2 linked regions of the Homo sapiens genome follow. The protein of the gene in region 1 interacts with the protein of each later gene in a biochemical or structural test. Each region holds a gene or a part of one and is shown on either strand. Other genes may lie near its edges. The genes, in order: IGFBP7 and ST14.

The links.
Region 2: of the proteins of IGFBP7 (region 1) and ST14, one has a biochemical effect on the other in vitro, tested with the Homo sapiens proteins (one study listed by IntAct).

The regions. Positions count from the first base shown.
Region 1 is NC_000004.12:57,034,554-57,046,574, reverse strand, and holds part of IGFBP7 (insulin-like growth factor-binding protein 7 isoform 1 precursor), read left to right. Parts: intron 1-5,641; coding exon 5,642-5,751; intron 5,752-12,021. UniProt on the Homo sapiens protein: Binds IGF1 and IGF2 with a relatively low affinity. Stimulates prostacyclin (PGI2) production. Stimulates cell adhesion. Acts as a ligand for CD93 to play a role in angiogenesis.
Region 2 is NC_000011.10:130,202,087-130,213,188, forward strand, and holds the end of ST14 (suppressor of tumorigenicity 14 protein), read left to right. Parts: intron 1-6,323; coding exon 6,324-6,598; intron 6,599-7,355; coding exon 7,356-7,492; intron 7,493-7,575; coding exon 7,576-7,737; 3' UTR 7,738-8,276; downstream 8,277-11,102. UniProt on the Homo sapiens protein: Exhibits trypsin-like activity as defined by cleavage of synthetic substrates with Arg or Lys as the P1 site. Involved in the terminal differentiation of keratinocytes through prostasin (PRSS8) activation and filaggrin (FLG) processing.

The sequences.
Region 1 (12,021 bases):
AATCCAAACACTGAGTATGAGTTAGATGATAATGTTGTTATTACCCTTGACCTGGCCTTGAGGACTGATTTTGAGCTTTCTGTATGAGAAAATTAGCTCAGAGTGACCTAAAAATTTCTTTATTCTTAAAAACAGAAATAAATTCTCGATCTGCCTTGCCCTTCTTGGAAGAAAGGTAGAGTGGAAAGAGTTAGAAGTTATTTGGTACAGAGTCATTGAGTACAGTGCTCTCCTGAGGTAGAACAGAACTGTCAGGGATTGAATTGCAGGACAGACCTGCAATTCAAGATGATTGTTGGCAGTGAAATTGCTGATCAATGGAATGTGTGGGATGATAGTTCTTGAGAGTCGGGGAGGAGAGTGCAGCATTGTTGGGGCTGGCATTGTATCCACCGAAAACATTTTCAGCATCTCTTCTCTTCTATACAAGACTTGTCCTCTTGGTGTCCCTGTGGGTCACCATTAAGTCGCTTGCTTATTCTTTCTCACCATGTATCTTCATTTACCTTTCTCTAAAACTTCTGTAATTTGCTTTTATCAAGAGATTTTGGTCGCGTGCAGTGGCTCACACCTGTAATCCCAGCACTTTGGGAGACTGAGGTGGGCAGATCACCTGAGGTCAGGGGTTCAAGACCAGCCTGGCCAACATGGTGAAACCCCATCTCTACTAAAAATACAAAAATTAGCCAGGCATGGTGGCGAGCACCTGTAATTCCAGCTACTTGGGAGGCTGAGGCAGGAGGATCGCTTGAACCCACGAGGCAGAGGTTGCAGTGAGCCGAGATCACACCATTGCACCCTGGGCAACAAGTGCAAAACTCCATCTAAAAAAAAAAAAAAGGAGTTTTTCCATTCCCTCTGCATATTCTGGGGGAATTTCCAGACCAGGTAAGTGGTAAAGAACCAATCAGAGCTTAGTAAATAGGTATCCTACTGGGTATCAGCTCTGAAGAAAGTACTGGAAAGAATGTTGAATCCCTACAGATTCTTCCAACACAGGAAGTCACGTGGAGGCCAACCCGCCTCCATGTACTCTAAGAGGTCTGTTTGGTCCCTTGAATATTACACTAATAATTTATTGATGTGACTTTCCTTTGCAAGAGACTGCATCTCAAAACCAAAAGGCCGTTCTGTAGCCTTATTTCTTAGCACTTTCCAGTTTACGTATTGTTTGTTAAACTTTTCATTGTGTTAGTAAACCCAGCATTTGTTCAAGGATATTTGAAATAGTCAAAGGTTTTTGTAAATGTTGTGCAGCAAACTGGTCCTAACAGCCCCTCCTCTGCCCTTCCACTACATCACCCCAGCAGGAGTCAGTGGATATTATAGATTTTTGTGGTATGGAAGTCTTGTAGAATTCTAGAAATAGCCTGGTGGCAGGATTGACAAAATCATTTACATTCTTAGAATAATCCAAATGTTGACTCAGCCTGTTTACCTAAGGTATTCCAAGCATTGGGAGAGAGAAATAGGAACCCATGATATGATTTGTCCTAATATTGAATCCCCTGACGATGGCTGTCATTCAAAGTATTCCTGGGTTCAGGTATTTTTAAAGAATTCATGGCTGGGCACTGTTGCTAACACCCATAATCCCAGTACTTTGGGAGGCTGAAGTAAGAGGATTACTTGAGCCCACGAGTTTGAGACCAGCCTAGTCAACATAGCAAGACTCTGTCTCTACAAAAATAAAAATAAAAAAAGAATTCTTACTTGTCCTAGAGTGTTCTGCTTCTTGGAATAGTAAGATGATTGGGGGGGAACAGATATATTAGATCTGCCCTCTATTTAGTGCTTCAACTTTAGTACAATTAATTTCTAAATTATGCCATAGTTATTGGTGCAAAGATAGACACATAGACCAGTGGAAAAGAACAGAGAGTCCAGAAATAGACGCACACATATACAGTGGGTCTTACAGATTTCCACAAAGGCATTATTATGATTCATTAGGAAAAAGATGGTCTTTTCAACAAATGGTGCTGAAGCAATTGGATGTCCTTTTAGGGGAGGAAAAATGAAACTTGACCTCTGCCTCATAGCACACACAAAAATTAATTCAAGATGGAGCAAAAACTTAAATGTGAAAAGTAAAACCATAAAGCTTGTAGAAGAAAACAGGAGATCTTCATAGCCTTGGGCTAGGCAAAAATTTTCTTAAACAGGACACGAAAAGCACTAACCACAGAAAAGAAAACTTGATAAATTGGACTATACTAAAACTAAGAACATCTGTTTTAAAATCCCATGGGAAAAATCCATAGCATGTCTTCAAGATCTCTGGCAGAAAATCAGGCTGGAACTTGCCCATTAGCACTCCAGAATCTGCCCCCTGCCCAAGACCGATGACCCTGCTACCTGTATTGGCAATAGGGAGATGGACACAGGTTAAAGTAAGTAGGTTTTGGCAGGGCTGAGGCCCTCAGATCCTCACAATAAAATTGTCTTGCATTCCTTGTGTGGTTTGGATATGAGAGAAGCAGCTTTGTTCCCGAGCTCCCCCTCAAATCTCTGAAAACTGGTATGCTCTTCTCAGAACAATCCTTTGAGATCCCCTGAGCTTTGAAGTCCTCCTGCCAAGTCTGTGTGTGGGAAGGAGAACAGAGCAGCATGAGGGCCATCAGAGAGGTGGGCGAAGGCAGTTCAAAGCCCAGCCAGATCCGGCTCTGTGGTGTCCAAACCCTTGGGGTCCCATAGCCCTAGAGGAAGCCCGGGATAGGGTGAGGCCCAGCCCTTTGCAGGGTTCTGTATTGCTGCATCCAGACTAGGAAATGTCTGAGACAGAGCCAGAAACGTAAATACTGCACCACTGTGCTCACCACATTCATGTTTGCAGCAGAAGAGCCAAGCCCCCTGGCCAGGATATATGCTTCCTATTCAGACCTATGGTTTGGAGGGAAGGAAGCATGAAATGTATTTAGAGCTTTCCAAACTTTTGATTGTTTTGCACATTCCTACAAAAATAAAAATATCCCATGAGATTAAAAAAAATCAGCTTCTAATGCTTTAGATGAGTGGGAAAATCTTGCACACTGGGGTCATTTCCTTTCTGTTTCAAGAAATTAATATTGTGCTGGAAATAGCCTGTTGCAGAAGGGGAGACTTTATGTCCTTTGAATGCTGATTATGCCAGAAAACTTTCCAGTCCTAAAGGGGAGGTTGTCCCTTTCCCAGGACTCTGATGCAAGATGACCCTGCAGTTTGTACTTTGCTAGGATAGGAGACCCAAGTCAGCAGAGATTTAAAATTCAGAAGGGATCATTAATTTATTCATTCAAGAAACCATGCTAAGCATGGAATAAGAGCCAGGTTAGGTTCTGGAGTCTCACACTGCCCCACATGAGGATCCCAGACTGCCAGCTCCATGACCCTCCTCTGCGGACGGTCCCAAGTCTTTCTGAAGGCCCCTGGTGATTGAACCCTGGCATTCAGAATTAGCAGAAGTGACATACTAATTACCAGTAACTAAAAAGTTGGTGTTCACATCTCTATTGCAGATGCCGGGAAGCCAGGCCGTCAGGGGACAGGCGCAGTCAGCAAGCACCCGCTCTCTCGGTATCTGTTGGCTTCCACAGTTTTGTGTTTCAGAGCCAAACCAGAAATCACCCAGGGGGTTACTTGCATCAGCTCTGGAAAATGTGTAAAGGATTGAAGTCCTGAGACTTTCCCATAATGTCTTATTTAGGCATCAGTCTCCCTCAGTTGATTAGAGCAGGAATCAGCAAATTTCTTTATAAAAGGCCAGTGACAGTGACTATTTTAGCCATACAGTCTCAGCCACAACTGCTCTAGCAGCCAGAGACCACAGGAAACAAATAAGTGTGGCTGTGTTCCAACAGAACTTTATTTTATGGACATTTCCTTTACAATTTTCACACGTCATGAAATATCCATCTTTTAATTTTTTTTCAACCATTTGAAACTGCAGGCCGGGCATAGTGGCTCACGCCTGTAATCCCAACACTTTGGGAGGCCAAGGTGGGGGGATCGCTTGAGCTCAGGGGTTCGAGACCAGCCTGGCCAACGTGGCAAAATGCTGTTTCTACTGAAAACACAAAAATTAGCTGGGCATGCACTTGTAGTCCTAGCTACTTGGGAGACTGAGTCATGGGAATTGCTTGAGCTTGAACCCGGGAGGCGGAGGTTGCCGTGAGCCAAGATCATGCCACTGCACTCCAGCCTGAGCAACAGAGTAAGGTTCTGTCTCAAAAAAATAAAATTTTTCTTAATTTAAAAAAACAAAAATCCAAACACCATTCTTAGCTCATAAGCCATGCAAAAACAGATGGCAGGCCAGATTTGGCCCACAGGCCATAGTTAGCTAACCCAGGACCAGAGAGTCATACCACTTTCATAGCAAAAAGGATACACATGGTTTGTGTTGACTCTGAGTAGGGAACTTCTCCAGAGGGTGCCATGATACAGAAGGTGGGGGGTGTGTTCCCTAATTGGGGGAATGGAGAAGCATCATTCTGGCCTCTCTCAGTGGCCCCATACCTGCTGACTCTATTTAGGCCGTGGCTTGAGGGTGCCCCCCACTTGCCAATGCCTCCTGCCAGGGACCTGGACACTGAGAACGCTGGGAAAGGGCCCTCTCCTTGGGGACCCTGGTCACACCCAATAGATCAGTCACTCTTCTTCCTTCTTACCAGCTGCCTCTCCTGAGCACACTGGAAGAAGGACCCCTGTACCACCTTCCTCGACACCCGGGCCTCTTCTGTTCAAAGGTGCCTCCTGGCCAGGCATGGTGGCTCACACCTGTAATCCCAGCAGTTGGGGAGGCTGAGGCAGGAGAATTACTTGAAGCCAGGAATTCGGGACCAGCCTGGGCAACATAGCAAGACCCCGTCTCTACAAAAATAAAAAATAAAAATTAACTGACATGGTGGTGCACGCCTATAGTCCCAGCTACTCGGGAGGCTGGGGTGGGAGGATCGCTGGAGACCAGGAGTTTGAGGCTGCAGTGAGCTATGATCAAGCCACTGCGCTCCAGCCTGGGTGGCAGAATGAGATTCTGTATCAAAAAAATAATAATAAAATTAAATTAAAAATAAAGATGTCCCTTCCAATCCCCTGACGCACACAGCACTCCACATGTTTCTTTTCTTCCCTGCCTCATCACCCTTTTCAACCTTAGATCCTAAGCTTCTTGAGGCAGAGACTTCCATCTTGTCTGGGTGCTTAGCACATTTTCAAATATTCTCTTAGATTTTTTTTCTTCATTACCCATGGAGCGGTTGCTTGTTGCCTTTCCAACCCAAAATAGAAATAGTGGTAAACAAAAGAAGAAAAACATTGAACATTTTGGAACTAAAATTTTATTACTACTGGAAAAGTCCCAGATAATAAAAAAACAGCTGGTAAATTAGCACTCATTTAAGCATGGTCTGGGGAAGAAGAAAATTTTAATAACACATTTTTCTTCCTAATTGTTTTTGTTTGTTTAGATTTATGCATTCCCAAAGTGGACCTTAAAATCATGTTGGTGGCAGGAGGAAGCCAGTGTGGTCTTTGAAATTTGCTTCAGATAATCCATCAAGGGGATGGCCTCATAAACAAAATTATTATTTTCTCCCTAAGATGCTGACTCATGTGAAGGACTGTTTAAAAGATGACTTTGGCTTTGTGCCCTCTCCTGCAGGTCCTTCCATAGTGACGCCCCCCAAGGACATCTGGAATGTCACTGGTGCCCAGGTGTACTTGAGCTGTGAGGTCATCGGAATCCCGACACCTGTCCTCATCTGGAACAAGGTCTGTGGCACAGACTTTAAGAGACATCCTAGGCTGACAAGCTTCTCTTGCACTGCACAAGGATGGTAAAACGTTAAATCCTCAGCCTGCTTTGTTGACTGCGGCTCCCGCAAGGTGAAGCCTTAGGGCAGTCATACAGGCCCCTCCCCTGGATTCATGGAACAAAAACCAGTCCCTGCCATGCTTTTGTTAGCAGCATCCTAGAATCTGAGAAACTGGAAGAACAATAATGCTGAACACCTGAACCCACCTTCAGGGTGTGTGTGCACCTGTGGTGTGTGTATGTGTGTGCATATGTGGGTGCGAGTGAAAGTGTGTGTGTCTGTGTTTGCGCCCTCAGTGGAGACAGTATAGCATAGGGGTTAAAAGCGTACGTTTCTCTCTTTCTGTCCCAAAATACCACCTCCAAGCCCCCACCAAGCTGTTTGTGATGGCATCAGTCTCCTCATTTAAGACTGAACATTTAGCTGATAATTTAGATCCTGTCTGCTTGGAGGCATTATTATTATTTTACTGGGAGGCTCGGCTAAGAAGGTAAAAGGACACAAAGCCCTGTAGCCTTCTCCTGGGAGCATGGATTATTTTTTCAGATTCCCTAAGTGCTGGGAGATGGATGAGTACATTTTAAGGGCACTTGGAAGTAGGATAGAAGGAATGAGGTGGGATCTATTCTCCTAAGTACCAAGGCTGTAGAACCATAAGTTAGGGACAGAGGAGACCACTCCAGAACAGAGCATTAAAAAGGAACAAGAGGAGGAATAGCAAAGAAAAAAATGTCTCCTTTCTGAATTTTGCTAAATGCTGGCCCCAGCCCCAAGTGGAAAAAGCATGATATTCTTTTAATAAATCAGCTTTGAAATGACTTCCCAAATGGAAAAAAAGAAAAAAAAAAGTGTGAGGCTGGGTGCAGTAGCACATGCCTGTAATCCCAGCACTTTGGGAGGCTGAGGCAGGAGGATCACTTGAGTCCTGGAGTTTGAGACCAGCCTGACCAACACAGTGAGACTTCCTTCTTACAAATAATTTTTTTAATTAGCTGGGCATGGTGAGGCATGCCTGTGGCCCCAGCTACTCAGGAGACTAAGGTGGAAGAACCCCTTGAGCCAGGAGATTGAGGCTGCAGTGAGCTGTGATTGCCCCACTGCACTCTAGCCTGTCTCAAAAAAAAAAAAAAAAAAAAGAGTGTGAATTCCTTAGCCAGGGTGGCTGAGTTCTCTGCAAGTCAGGGTTTCTCAGCCTCAGCACTATTGACATTTGGGGCCAGATAATTATTTGTTGTGCGGGCTGCCTGTGCTTTGGAAGATGTTTAGCAGTATCCCCAGCCTCTACCCACTATATAACAGTAGCATTCCCCCATCCCCCCTGTCGTGAGAATTAAAAGCATCTTCAGACATTGCCAAATGTCCCCTAAGGGTGTGGAGCTGGGGAATTGCCCTGGACTGAAAACCACTGCTGTTAGCCTCAACTCTGTTCTCTACCTTATAAAAGTAGCATGTAATTATCATAAAGATGAAATAAAGTAATGCAAGTAAAAATTACTTGATACATAGTTAGCACTCAGTAGACATTAGCTACTGTTCCTGGAAATTTTTCCCTTCAAGTGGCATTATCTTGTATAATTATCTTCATATTTGAAGGACAACATCATCTCAGCATGTATGGAGAAGGGAAAAGAAAACACTTATTTGCCATCAACTAACACCTCACAATTATACCATACACTTACGTTTTTGTCTTTTTTTTTTTTTTTTTTTTTTTGAGACATAGTTTCACTCTTATTGCCCAGGCTGGAGTGCAATGGCACCATCTCGGCTCACCGCAACCTCGCCTCCCGGGTTCAAGTGATTCTTCTGCCTCAGTCTCTCAAGTAGTTGGGATTACAGGCACCCGCCACCACGCCTGGCTAACTTTGTATTTTCAGTAGAGACAGGGTTTCTCCATGTTGGTCAGGCTGGTCTCGAACTCCCGACCTCAGGTGATACGCCCACCTTGCCCTCCCAAAGTGCTAGGATTACAGGTGTGAGCCACCGCGCCTGGTCGTTTTTGTCCTTTTTATACATTTTGAATTGCTGAGCCTCACAACTATCCTACGAAAAATAAAAATTAAAAAATTATCAAACTCATGCTACCAAAAAAGGAACTTAGTTTAAGTAAAAGGGCATAACCAGACATCCATTTTAAGCTGCCTTACTTCTCCAGCAAGCTCTAAGGTGGATGATAGTCTCCCTTGACTATTTTGTTTGCTCTCTGTGTGACCGGAGAAGCAACTTCTAGAACTCCAGGAGGACTGTGGCTCCCGCAGTCGGAGCTCTTTCTGTTGCAAGTTCTACCAGCCCATTTGAAACCAGCCTAGGCAAAACAAAAAGCGGGGCGGGATCCAGCCTCAAGGGCCCCTGCATCCAGGTACACACGCCATCAGAACTCTAACTCTTGACTCTTTGCTCTCAATATACTAGTCTCATTTTCTTCTGCTTCAGAAAGCTTCCTATGCAGTGGGAGATATCAACTCCACTCACATTTTTATTACAGCTTAAAGACCCCAGAGGAAAGAAAGGGCTTCCCTTCTCCCTGCTGCATTGTGAAAATCCCACGAAGGGCTCAAGCCCAGGTCGGGTCACCTGCTAAGCTCTGGCTCCCCCATGCGGCCGGAGGGATGCGGCCACTGACATTGGCACCGGCGTGAATCCGCCTGGTTTGTGTAAAATCTGGGAACAGGTACCAGAAAATGCCTGAGGTGGGGGTGATGGCAGAGGCAACACTACTATACCATCCTTTACAGTGAAGCTTCTCTTAAAGGAGCAATAAAATTTCACCCCGATCAGTTATGTTTTTAAGAGGAAGGCGGAGCAAGAGTAAGAGCAGAAATGCAGTCCGTGGATGGGTTCCCCTCCATCCTTACTGCAAGAACTGCAGGCGTTCCTCACTGCTAATTTGGAGATTGCTGGTTTGCTCAGGGTGTGGGGAGGTGGAGAAATAATGTTCCGAGGAATACCCATGAAAAGCTCCGTTGCAGTTCTCTACAGTTTTCTAGGGATACTTACACAATGAGAAGCGAGGGTCACCCAAGCGTCCTGGGGCATGTGACCTTATTGGCAAATCTTGGCAAAGAATAATTTCTTCAGTCCTTGCTCTACCCAATCCCAGCTACAGTATTCACATACCAGAGGAATACGTCTGCCTCGGGAATCTTTTCCCTTTTAGGACTGTACAGGGCAGATCCCAATAGACAAGGCCTCCCTGAGTGCTTGTCCTCAGGGCTAGTCAGAAACACCAAGGCAGTTGAGGCTGGTGTGGTGGCTCGCACCTGTAGTCCCTAGCCACTCGGGAGGCTGAGGTGGGAGGATCGCTTGAGCTCAAAAGGTGGGGCTGCAGTGAGCTATGATGGCACCACTGCACTCCAGCCTGGGCAACAGAGCAAGATCCTGTCTCTGAAAAAAAAAACCAAAAAACCCACTATGTCAGTCAACGAGATGGGTGCTGAAGTAAAGAAGTGAAGAGGAAGTAGGAGAGAAACAATTTTTTCTGCAGACTTTCCAGAACAAGCAAAACCCAACTGTGATGCTCTGCCGGTTTTCCTCTACCTTCATAATGTAATTTGCCACATGCATGACCCAAAGCAATGTTTCTTACACTGCAGACCATGACCCATCAGTGACTCCTGGAACTAATGTAGCGATCACAACCACCATGTTCTTATAAAAAATAAAAAATAGAACAGAACCTATGTTAAGGCATCACACTTACCACTTATGAAGGTGTCATTTCCTAAAACTTTTGTATATTCCAGATATACGATAGTTTGGTCCATGTCAAAACTAAGGAAACTTGGGAAGTCACTGACCTAAATAATTAAACAGGGTATTTGTTTTCTCATCGCTGTCCTTGTAACCAGACTGTTAAGAATACAAACATATTTACTATCATGTGTGTTTCAAATCCAATTTAAGAGTAGAACACCTTTTTGGATAGATTATTAGAATCCTCACTTGTAAAACAAGAGAAACTGAGGCTCAAATAAAGACAGCATGTCCTTCTTGCTCAAGGATTCTTAGCAACAGCAGAATTAATGGTACAAGCCTTTTCTCCATGACACTTGAGACTACGGTGGCAATTCTTACGGTTGGCACAGCCTGGCGAGTGGTCTTTACTTTCCTTACTGGTAGTAAGGAAAGCTGGCTTTAACAAGCCCCATACCTTTCAGCAAACTCCTAGCCTAGAAAGATTCGAAGGGCAATATTTTGAAATGGGAACGTGAACTGAAATAGCCATATTTGACTTAACCCTTTTAAATCAAAGATGATGCTCACAGCGAAAGCAAAACACCTTCCCAATATTTGTTTCTGAGACGGAGAGGCTCTCTGTTTAATTCTTTTCTTGCCTGAATATTTCTTCAGATTAGGGCTTCCTTGACCTCTAAGAATATTTTTTAATCAAAAATAGTGACCTCTAAGGTAATAGTAATAAGCAGAAATTATCCAAAGACGTATAAAGAAAGAGTTGAGAATCTCCCCCCACCTCCTCCTCCTGCCTGAGGTAACCAATGTGAACTGCCCTGGTTTGTATCTTTCCACACTCTTTTTCATATCCAAGCATATTCAAACATATATCCCTACGGTGAAATGAGAATATAGTGTGCCAGTAAATTATTCTGAAACTCGCTTTTCTCAACAAATACTTCATGGACATCCGTCCAAGTCTGCTTCTCAACAGCTACGTAATATTCCAAGTATGAATACTGTAATTTATTAAATCAGTTCTGTATTTTTTCTGTTGTTTCCAAATTTTTGTTAACTTAAAAAACCTACTTTAAGCATCAAAGTACACATATCATACATACTAGTGATTGTATTGCTATAAGATAGATTCCCCAACAGTTACCTAAGTCAAAATATTTGTTTCAGTGTTAACAGACATTGTCAGATTACTTTCTAAATAGATTGTAGTAATTCACACTCCCACCAGAAATGGAGAAGTGCCATTTCTCTGCATCTTTACTAGCACTGAATATTAACCTCTCTTTTTTAGTTTTAATTCCAATTTTAACTAGAAAACACATATTTATTGGCCAGGCACAGTGGCTCATGCCTGTAATCCCAGCACTTTGGGAGGCCAAGGCAAGTGGATCACTTAAGGTCAGGAGTTCGAGACCACCCTGGCCAATATGGCAAAACCCCGTCTCTACTAAAACTATAAAAATTAGCCAGGCGTGGTGGCACATGCCTGTAATCCCAGCTACTCGGGAAGCTGAGGCAGGAGAATCACTGGAATCCCGGAGGCGGAGGCAGAGGTTGCAGTGAGCTGAGATCGCACCACTGCACTCCACCCTGGGTGACAGAGCGAGACTCTGTCTCAAAAAAAAAAGAAAACACATACTTAACAACACTTAGAATCCCCTTACACGAATAAGGGAGAGTTTGACATATAAAAATTTGTCATATGAAAATTCTTGGCACTTTTTTCTATGTTTTCTACATGATGTATAACCTTTTATAATTACGTAACATTAATTAAAATACGCCATGCCAACACTTGTGAAAAGAAGGGAAAAATAAAGTATATCTATATTGTGATTTATGTTAAATATTATATTTAACAAGATACATTTCCCTTTCCATAGTGGATCAGGTTAATTAGCATAAAATGCTGTTACTAAGAGCTATGGGATTTGAGGCTTAGTTGCTGAGATTCAGTATTTCAGTGCTGCAGTGTTTATTTTCTTGCTTTGGTCACACATAAAACTCATATGATTCTGAAATTCAGTAAATAAAGGTCAGAGTCATATTACTTGAGACCTTGGATCAAATTAATACTTCTACCAAAATATTCTTACAACCCATTTTTAAGTAACTATTTCAAAAGCTGTATTAGCATAAACCGTTTCTGCCAGCTACTTGGGAAACTAAGGGAAAAGGTACCTATTGAGTATGTTTGTCTTCACAGCATTTATGAGAAAGACATTAAGTTACGTGGTTTTCTCTCACTAATAGTGGCAATGTGGGAAAATTCCAGAAAAAAAATGCAAAAAGCCAGGCTTTCCAAATCATGCAAGATATTTTTTCTAGAGCAGGAATTGGCCTAGATCACATGTGGTTTGCTGAATCCCAGTCCTGGCATCATAAAGCTGAGAAAATACAGTGTAGGTTTGAAGCCGACACAACAGCAGAGTACCAAAAAACACATGGTAGGAGTGGGATCCACATGGGAAAAGCAACACTGAGATGGAAGTTAATAAAGTGTATATATTTATTTATATATTTATTATATTTATAC
Region 2 (11,102 bases), on another chromosome or scaffold:
CATTGTCACCATGGTGTCATGTCCAGGCCCAGTTAGCAGGTAGAGCTAGGAAATGGCTGGGTGCATACTAAGAACTGCCCTGCCATCCTGCACTGCTTCCTCTTTTCCTTTGCTTCGTTGCTTTCTTTCTCATTTCCTTCTCCTTCATCGTGTGTTGATCATCAGTCATGCTTCTGCCAACGAGTAGTGCAATTAATCTTCAACACCCCTGGTTACTATTGACACTAGAGAGACCAACATGAATAGGACTTGGTCCCTGCAGATTGTGGGTCACAGACTTGTAAGGGTAGGGACAAGACATGACACACATGTGCAGTAAGTGCTGTGGCAGGGCTGTGTCCAGGCTCCCTTGGGCCCAGCATGTGGAGTTTAGAATTCTAAACCCATATGCCTGAGGGACTCGGGGGGTGACTGTTGGGAACACTCAACATGGGTGTCTGAACTGAGGGTTGAAGGTGAGGGTGTCTGTCAGCTGGACCAGGTGGCTCAGACCTTCCAGACAAAGGGAGTGTCGTGTGCAGAGGCAGGGAGGTGTGAGATGTGCAGGGGCATGGTGTCAAGGGACCCTGAGCACATGGCTAAGTCATCATGCATTCATTGGGCACTGCCGGGAGGCGGCATCACGTTGCGGTTAAATGCACAGGCTGCCTAGGTTGCAGTTGTGGTCTACAGCGTGTTAGCTATATGATCTTCGGCAAGTTGCCCTCTCTGTGCTTGAGTCCTCATCTTAAAAAGCGCGACCCTACCTCACAGGACTGTTTCAGGGATAAAACAACTTACTGTGTCAGCATCGAGAATTGTGCTTGGGACATCAGAAGTTCTACCTGAGCACTAGCGATTCCCAACTGCACTCCAGCCCCTGGGGTCACCATGGGGGATATCAGTGGCTGCATCTTCACAATCAGTCTCTCAGCTGCTGGTAGACGTGCATGCCTTAAACGTTAGAGGCTGAGTCTGCTGATAGAATCAAATACTGTCAGACTTACCGATTGGCTGGGTTTGCAGACAGGGCTTCATGAAAGCGGGGTCTTGAGCTGAGGTCGCCAGGTGAACAGGGCGGGCTTGGAGGAGGGAGGTGGAAACCCGCAGGCACAGGGCAAAGAGCTGGATGGGGGTGTCCATGCTGAGTGTTGGGGTCACGGGGAATTGAGCTAGAGGGACAAGGATGGCTCTCCCCTCTCCCCCGTCCCATGAGACCCTTTCAGCTACATGCTCGCCTCCTGGGTGTTCCTGAAACATCTCTACTCTCTTCTATCTGCACTGCCACCACCTTGCTCGTCCTAGCTCACTGTAGCCTGGGCAGCTGCAGCACCCTCCCCATCTACTTCCTTCCCTCTCAGGACTCTGGTCTGCACCACTCGAGCCCAGAGGGGCCTTCCCCAAATCTGATCACCCCAATCTCTTGCTTCAGCGCCTGCCACGGCTTGCAGTATAAAGCAGGAACTCCTTCACGACCGACACGGCCACGTTATCTGGCCCCTGCCCGTCCGTGCAGTCTCAGTCTCCAGTGCAGTCCTCATGCCTTCCCCATGCTCAGTGTGAGGGTTTCCTAAATGTGCCTTTGCTCTTTTTTCTTTTTTTTTGAGACCGAGTTTCACTTTTGTTGCCCAGGCTGGAGTGCAATGGCGCGATCTCAGCTCACTGCAACCTCCGCCTCCCGGGTTCAAGCAATTCTCCTGCCTCACCCTCCCGAGTAGCTGGAATTACAGGCATGCGCCACCGTGCCCGGCTAATTTTTTGTACTTTTAGTAGAAACGGGGTTTCACCATGTTAGCCAGGCTGGTCTTGAACTCCTGACCACGGGTGATCTGCCTGCCTTGGCCTCCCAAAGTGCTGGGATTATAAGGTGTGAGCCACCACGCCCGGCCACCTTTGTTCTCTTTAAACATGCGGCATTCTCCACCCCTTCAGGCCATAGGTGGCCAGGCCTACGTGATGTCGAGGCTTGGTTCATAACTCACTTCGTTTCCGGACTCCCAGCCCATCCTCTCCCACAGCTTTCTACCCAGTCCTCTGTGGGACCCTTCTTGTCACGCTGTAATTGGTGGTTTTCATATCTCTCCACATGTACACTGTGAACCTGAAGGCTGGGTCATAGATCGCATCACAGATGCCCAGAGATTGTTGAGTGAATGAGTTGATGGGGGTTGAGTACGTGGCTGGATGTGAGCAGGCTGGGAAACTGTTAGAAAGGTCAGGTCGATTAACAGTGAACGCAGAAGGCCTGGGTGGGTCACAAGACCTCACCTGGCAACTCTTGGGAATTCTTTTAGGCTGTGGAATGGGACGCAAAGGATCTCACAAAAACAGCTTTTGGGAAGTCATTTTCTGGTGGCAACAGATTACAGTGAAGCGAGATTGGGCATAGCCTAGGTTGGAAAACTGAGCTTTGGCCTTGGCGTGCGATTCCGTGGGGAGGTGGCTGTAAGAAAGGCCAGAAGGGGGCCTGGCGCGGTGGCTCATGCCTATAATCCCAGCACTTTGGGAAGCCGAAGCAGGCAGATCACCTGAGGTCAGGAGTTCGAGACCAGCCTGACCAACATGGTGAAACCCCATTTCTACTAAAAATACAAAAATTAGCTGAGCATGGTGGCATGCACCTGCACTCCCAGCTACTTGGGGGCGGCTGAGGTGGGAGGATCGCTTGAGTCTGGGAGGCGGAGGTTGTGGTGAGCCAAGATCATGCCACTACACTCCAGCCTAGGCAACAGAGTAAGACTCCATCTCAAGAAAAAAGAAAGGCCAGAAGGTGATGGACGCTGGGGCAGTGAGAGTGGACCAGGGCTCGGGTGGGCACGCGAGTGATGTGGAGGCAGAGGCTGGGTTTAGTGCTCCGGGGTCGGGGAGGTGCCCTGGCTGGGTGGTTCAGTAACCTTTTGACCTTCCTGAGAGGTGAGGGAAAATGAAGCGGGTCTTCATGCCTTTCTCTTGTCACGCACATTTTCTATTTTAAATATGTATTTTTCCAATGTTTTATTTTGAAATTTTTCAAACCTACAAAAATGTTGTAAATACAATGAATGAAAAAAAGGACTAGTACAGTGAACACTTTTTTTTTTGAGACAGAGTCTCACTCTGTCCCCAGGCTGGAGTGCAGCAGCGTGATCTCAGCTCACTGCAACCTCTGCCTCCCGGCTTCAAGCAATTCTCCTGCCTCAGCCTCCGGAGTAGCTGGGACTACAGGTGTGCGCCACCTTGCCCGGCTAAATTTTTGTATTTTTAGTGGAGATGGGGTTTCACCATGGTGGCCTGCCTGGTCTCGAACTCGTGACCTCGTGATCCCCCCATGCCTTGGCCTCCCAAAGTGCTGGGATTACAGGTGTGAGCCACCGCACCTGGCTGTACAGTGAACACTCTTATACCTTTGATCTACATTCAGTGATTGAGTTAATCACGTTTGCTTTCTCTCTGTTTGCACCCGCATGTATTTTTCAGAACCATTTCCCAACTGGGGGCAGCCATTGTGAGGCTTCCCACCAGGTGCCTCGGCCTGTGTCTCCAAAAACACGGATGCTGTCCCACACTGAGAAATGGCGGCATTGCTTTGTGCTGCGAGCTGACGTACGCGTCATAAATGTCCTCCAATCATGCCCATCATGTTCTTCTTTAGACGTTTTTTTTTTTGTTTTTTTTTTTGAGACGCACTCTTTCGCCCAGTCTGGAGTGCAGTGGCACAATCTAAGCTCACTGCAACCTCCACCTCCCAGGTTCAGGTGATTCTCTTGCCTCAGTCTCCTGAGTAGCTGGAATTACAGGCACCTGCCACCACGCCTGGCTAATTTTTGTATTTTTAGTAGAGACGGGGTTTCACCACGTTGGCCAGGCTGGTCTCAAACTCCCAACCTTGTGATCCTCTCGCCTGGGGCTCCCAAAGTGCTAGGATTACAGGCGTGAGCCACCATGCCCAGCCTTCTTCGGAGCTTTTTAAAAAAAGTCCTAGGATGCAGTCAAGGGTCACGCCTTGTATTTAGTCATTAGGTTTCTTTAACCTCATTTTAATCAAGAACAGTTTCTCTACGCCTTTTATTTTTTGGTTTTTTATGGCATTGACATTTTTGAAAAGTTCGGGCCAGTTATCTTACAGGATGCCTCTCAATTTGGGTTTTCCCGACTGTGTTTTCATGGCTGAGTTAGGAAGCAGTGCGCGGGCGGTGCTGTACCCTACTCGGGGAGAGCAGGATCCCCCGTGAAGGGGGCTGGTCGGGAGAGGAGGCTGAGCACCTGGCTCGGGACGCCCAACAGGTTTCGCCATCATAAAGGGGCTTCCCCCTTGGTCGTGACTACACTGCAGGTGATTCTTTGAATCAGCGTGAGTGTCTCGTTCTCCAGCCGTACTTTGCCCGGCGTCTCAGCGTCCGTTGGTGATTCTCACATTGTTGATTATTATTGTGGCAGGCGCGAATGTGGTTCCTTATTGTACCGTTTCTTCAGCATTTAGGGGCTGCTCACTCTTTCTTTCTTTCTCTTTCTCTTTTCTTTTCTTTTTTTTTTTCTTTTTTGAGGTGGGGTCTCACTGTGTTGCCCAGGCTGGAGTTCAGTGGTGCGATCTTGGCTCACTGCAACCTCTGCCTCCTGGGTTCAAGCAATTCTCCTGCCTCAGCCTCCTGAGTAGCTGGGATTACAGGCACCGGCCACCACACCTGGCTAATTTTTGTGTTTTTGGTAGAGGCGGGGTTTCACCATGCTGGCCAGGCTGGTCTTGAACTCCTAACCTCAGGCGATCCACCCACCTCGGCCTCCCAAAGTGCTTGGATTACAGGAGTGAGCCACCATGCCCGGCCAGGGGCTGCTTTTTCTCTGTAAAGAATAGCTTTCCTTTTCCCTGTATAAATTCTTTTGAAATTACTTTTTAGACTCAGGGTGGACTGATGGATTACCCCACCCTTTTTTATTATTCCACCTGTGTAGTAGTGTCACCCTGTCACCACTTATTTCGGGGTTCTTATTGTCCTAACTTTAGCCAGCTTTGTGAGGCCGCATTGCTGTTTGAGTGCTCGATCGCTTCCTGCAGAAACAAAATGTTCCAGGTTGCTTTATGCTTCCCATTAAGCCCCAGATCCGAAATCAGCTGTTTTTCCAAGGAGCCCTGGTTCCTTTCAATAGAGAAGGATATTTAGACACTAAGTTCTGGGTGCTGCTGGAGACAGTATTGGTTTTAGGCCAGTTTTTAAGAATTGTGAGCCAGCGGGCACGGTGGCTTATGCCTGTAATTCCAGCACTTTGGGAGGCCAAGGTGGGCTGGTCGTTTGAGGTCAGGAGTTTGAGACCAGCTTGGCTAACATGGCGAAACCCCGTTTCCACTAAAAATACAAAAATTAGCCAGGCGTGGCTGCACATGCCTGTAGTCCCAGCTACTCGGGAGGCTGAGGCAGGAGAATCGCTTGAACCTGGTAGGTGCAGGTTACAGTGAACTGAGATCACACCTCTGTACTCCAGCCTGGGTGACAGAGTGAGACTTCGTCTCAAAAAATAATAATAAAATAAAATAAAAACCATGAACCTTTCCTGATATCTCTGATCTCATTCCACATCTGTGCCTCCCTTTCCCCCCAGTGGGGTGGGCTCCGGCTCTGCAGTGCACGTGGAAAAGCTTCTGAATTGCTAAACCTATTCCATAGCCAGCAACAAACTTAGACACAACACAACATATTTTTCAATTCATTTTGGTCTTAGGTTATATAGCACTACATTAAAAATTTATTTGGGCTGGGCGTGGTGGCTCACGCCTGTAATCCCAGCGCTTTGGGAGGCCGAGGCGGGCGGATCACAAGGTCAGGAGATCGAGACCAGCCTGACCACCATGATGAAATCCCGTCTCTATTAAAAATACAAAAATTAGCTGGGTGTGGTGGTGTGCACTTGTAATCCCAGCTACTCAAGAGGCTGAGGCAGGATAATCGCTTGAACTCGGGAGGTGGAGATTGCAGTGAGCCGAGATCATGCCACCACCGCACTCCAGTCTGGGTGACAGAGCGAGACTCAGTCTCAATAAATAAATAAATAAATAAATTATTTGGATTGATTGTTCTGTTATTCCTCCTGTGAAAGATCAGGTTCGTAAGATAACTAATTTTTGGTCATCAGATTAAAAATGTATTCAAGGAAGGGGGGGTAAAGAGTTCAAGAGGGATTTCATACTGCAGCTGGAGGCACTTAGTAGTTTCTAGCTTAGGGTCAAGACCAAGTAAGAGCCGGCCCCATCGTCTTCTCGTAGCAGCAGCTGTGCCTCATCCATGCGGAATCCTCTGGGAACGCGCGGGGCCGCGAGGCCGTGTGCACAGACCCGAGTGACCGCGCAGTCTCATAGCGGCTCTCCCTACCAGGTACTCAGACCCCACGCAGTGGACGGCCTTCCTGGGCTTGCACGACCAGAGCCAGCGCAGCGCCCCTGGGGTGCAGGAGCGCAGGCTCAAGCGCATCATCTCCCACCCCTTCTTCAATGACTTCACCTTCGACTATGACATCGCGCTGCTGGAGCTGGAGAAACCGGCAGAGTACAGCTCCATGGTGCGGCCCATCTGCCTGCCGGACGCCTCCCATGTCTTCCCTGCCGGCAAGGCCATCTGGGTCACGGGCTGGGGACACACCCAGTATGGAGGTAAGCTTCGGGCTGACCTAGGGCTCCGCAGAGGGCCTGGGGCCTTTCTCCAAGGCCGTGTTTCCTCTGCGTGTCCGGTCTCGGGGCGGGGGGCTGCTCCAGTCTCCCTCTGCCTGGCAGAATGAGGCTGTCCAGGGCGGAATGGAGGCCTTTAGTAAAAGGGGCATGGGATTTGCAGCCTGGGCTCAGGATTGAAGGTTGGCTTTGCCCCTAACTAGCTGAGTGACCTTGAGCGAGTTGCTTAAGCTCTGATCCTGTTTGTGCATGCGCGTAATGAAGATAGCAACACCTTAAGCCCAGTGGTGCTTAAGGCACGTGAGGGGGTGGGTATGAAGGGAAGCAGGCCGTTAGTTGGCAAATGCTAGATTGAAAGAATCCACTGTACAGCATATGCTGAACATTTGTCGTCTTTGGAGAGGAAAGAAAACGAACAGGACTTACAGCTCCAATGCCCTCACAGAACCCCGCGGGCATTTGCGGCGCCTTCCCTCCGCCTCTCTGCTTCTTGTTCCCTCACCCCTGCTTGCCACGGCGTCTGTTCCCTCTCAACTCGCCTGGCAGATCTCAGCATGCCCCTGCTTCCTCTAGGTGGCTGCTATTGCCAGAGCCCACTGAGTAGACGCGGATTACCCGTTTGTCAGCCCCGGGCATCTGGGCTGTTCCAGAGTTTTCTAGTCCAATGACCCGTGGGGAGCGTCTCGAATGACGCTGCCCTCGAAGCAGCCCGGCTCTCAGCCCCGTCCTGCCCTCTCCCCAGGCACTGGCGCGCTGATCCTGCAAAAGGGTGAGATCCGCGTCATCAACCAGACCACCTGCGAGAACCTCCTGCCGCAGCAGATCACGCCGCGCATGATGTGCGTGGGCTTCCTCAGCGGCGGCGTGGACTCCTGCCAGGTGGCCCCCGGGGCAGGAGGGCGGCAGGTGGGCCCCGGGAGAGGCGGGACTGGGGACTCACGGCAGGGCTTGTCTCCGCCCAGGGTGATTCCGGGGGACCCCTGTCCAGCGTGGAGGCGGATGGGCGGATCTTCCAGGCCGGTGTGGTGAGCTGGGGAGACGGCTGCGCTCAGAGGAACAAGCCAGGCGTGTACACAAGGCTCCCTCTGTTTCGGGACTGGATCAAAGAGAACACTGGGGTATAGGGGCCGGGGCCACCCAAATGTGTACACCTGCGGGGCCACCCATCGTCCACCCCAGTGTGCACGCCTGCAGGCTGGAGACTGGACCGCTGACTGCACCAGCGCCCCCAGAACATACACTGTGAACTCAATCTCCAGGGCTCCAAATCTGCCTAGAAAACCTCTCGCTTCCTCAGCCTCCAAAGTGGAGCTGGGAGGTAGAAGGGGAGGACACTGGTGGTTCTACTGACCCAACTGGGGGCAAAGGTTTGAAGACACAGCCTCCCCCGCCAGCCCCAAGCTGGGCCGAGGCGCGTTTGTGCATATCTGCCTCCCCTGTCTCTAAGGAGCAGCGGGAACGGAGCTTCGGGGCCTCCTCAGTGAAGGTGGTGGGGCTGCCGGATCTGGGCTGTGGGGCCCTTGGGCCACGCTCTTGAGGAAGCCCAGGCTCGGAGGACCCTGGAAAACAGACGGGTCTGAGACTGAAATTGTTTTACCAGCTCCCAGGGTGGACTTCAGTGTGTGTATTTGTGTAAATGAGTAAAACATTTTATTTCTTTTTAGGTAAGTTTCTTTTCCTACTGGAGTTGCGCCCTCCTTCCTCCTTTTTCCTACTCGATTTGCAAGAAATTGGATGTACATTCCCCTCAGCACAGACCCTGGAGTCAGGCTGGGTGGGGCCCACAGTGCCGTTGCCTTCTCTAGGCCAGCAAGGGGCTGGTTTTGCTCTGACCTGTAGCTTCCAAGACCAGGGGCCTGGTGCCCTGGTAGGAGGGAAATGCGGGTTGGCGAGGTGGGGAGACGAATGTTGGGGGGTGCACTGGTGCCCAGGCCTGGGTCCAACCTAGGAGAGGGAGGAGCTTTGTCAGAGGAAGATGGGCGGAAGCGTGGCTTCGTGTTTGGTGGGGAGGTGGCCCTGTGAGCGCACACACTCACGGGGACAGATGTGAGTCTGGGCATGAAGACCTGGCTGTCTCTCTAGTGAAGGCTGAGCAGATGGGTCCCAAGGCCTTGGAGGAGGGGTGCTGCCTGGCTGAAGGGCACCCACACCTCCCGTGCCATCCCCCTTGATTTTTTCTTTTTTCTTTTTTTTTTTTTTTTGAGTCAGGGTCTTGCTCTGTCACCCAGGCTGGAATGCAGTGACATGATCACAGTTCATTGCAGCCTCAGTCTCCTGGGCTCAAGCTATCCTCCTGCCTCAGCCTCCTGAGCAGCTGGGACTAGAGGTGCCCACCACCACACCTGGCTAAGTTGTTTTTTTTTTTTTGTACAGACAGGGTCTCACTATGTTTCCCAGGCTGGTCTCGAACTCCTGGGCTCAAGTCATCTTCCCGTGTTGGGCTCGTGCTGAGCCACCACCCCCAGCCTCCCTAGATTTTTACTTAATAATTTAAAATATTTCCTCTCTTCTTGCTTGGTGGCCTGAAGGGACAATGTCAACAATCTGGGGAAGGCTTAGGGAGCTTTTGGGGGAACATTTGAGGGCTTCTTGTATGCTGATGCGCCACATGGGCTTGGGGCAGGGAAGAGGACCTGGGGAGAGAAATGACATGGCCAGTGTCAGGAGGGCAGAAGGTAGCCTTGGCTCACCGCTATGTCCCCAGCTCAGGCTTGTCTTAGAACATGCTGATATGTGTTTGTTCAATGAATGGTTTTTTGCCTGCCATGAGTTATGGAAACAAAAAGGAGGAAATATAGTCTGATTGGAGCAACACTGCAAGGCTTCTCGGGGGAGGTGGGGTTTGCAGAGCCTCTTTCATTTTAGCCTGAGTGTTTTACCTCTTTGAGGGAGGGAGTGTTGCCTAGAACCTGTGCGAGAATCTGTCGCATTTTCCTCCCTGGGGAGGGAAAGAACATCTGTTCTTACCAAGGCGTGGGAAGTAGAATGAGGATGATGCTGAAGGACTCCTGTGCGTGTTGTAAATGTCATTCCTTTTCTGCCCTGACATGGTCATTCCCACCTGATCGCATCGGACAGAAGTGCCCAGTGCAGGCGCTGAGGGAATGGTCTATGTTAAATGGAGAGGTTTCACGAGGCCTGTGTGTGGTCTGGTTCCTAAGTGTGCGTGAGCCTGGCAGCCGGGGCTTGGCCGGGGTGTAGACATGGTCATCCATGCAGTGGGATTCAGGGAGGCCAGCCCAGCCCGTGCCACTGCACCACCCTCAGCTCCATTGTGGCTTGACAGTGTTCTGGACTGCTCACTCCCCCCGGTCAGATTCCCACCCGGGGAGCAGGTGAAAACACAGATGGCTAGCCTTCAGGGTCATCCCACCCTTTCCGGGACTCTCTGCGGGAGGTCTGAGTGGGACAAGGCGTGTCGTCTGTGGCAGTGTTTCTCTCGGGAGGTCCCTGGGCAGGAATATCGAGATCTCCTGGGACTCATAGGTGCAGAGTCTCATGCTTCATCCAGACCTCCTGAACAGAAACTGGTGGGCCCGCTGGGTGGGGCCAGTGGCCTGTGCTCTAAGAAGCGTTCCTGTGAGGTTGGAGAGCACCGTTTTAGCAGTGGGTCATGCCATTCCAAGTGCCACGGAGCAGCAGCATCACCAGGTGCTCCATCAGATGCCCAGAGCCGCAGTTTGCAGGACATCCTTGGTCCTTGGGGGATCCTGGAAGCCTGCCTGAATGTCGAGAAGCATTTGAGCCCTGGAAAATCAATCATGTGTCAGTGCCTTTAAAAAGATTATGGGGCCAAATCCTGTGTTACTTCTGGCTGGAGTTCAGAAGATCAGGCTGAGACTCCCTAACTCGCCAGAGGCCAGACACATCACGCAGGCCCCGCGCCGATAGCTCTCACGAAGGCAGAAGTCTCTGGTCCAAGAGCCTGAGCTGACAGGGTGGGAATACCAGCAGGCTAGAGCCATTCCTCCTTGCTGAGGATGGCAGTCCAGACCTGCAGCAGCTGGGAGAGGCCAGAGGCCTGCGTAGGTCTGTGCTGACCAGCCTTTCCTTCACCCAGGTGAAGGCCACAGCAGAGGTCTGAAGGGTTAGAGGAGGAGGTGGGAGGGCCAGGCTGAGGGCCCCACGTGCACAGGTGCCCTGCACAGCAAGCTGGCCTCACAGGGGAAGAGTGCAGGGCTGCTGCTGCGCTCCCACAAGCTCAGTGCAGCCCCGCAGAGGCTTTCCCCTACTGACTAGCTGCTTTCGTTGCTGAGATCTCAAGATGATCCAACTCTCTGATCCCCCTAAACTACCTTGTATCGCCATTGTTTTAGCTAGGAATCATAACCATGTAAATTTAATGAAAATTTAACCCGACTCCTGCTTATTGCAGCCATGGCGAGTCCTACTCAGACCTAGAGTCTGCAGGAATCACAGTGAAATTTGGATTAGGAAGGACTTTATGGAAAAGGAAATGTTTAAAATCCTGGGCCCAGTTTGGAGGTCT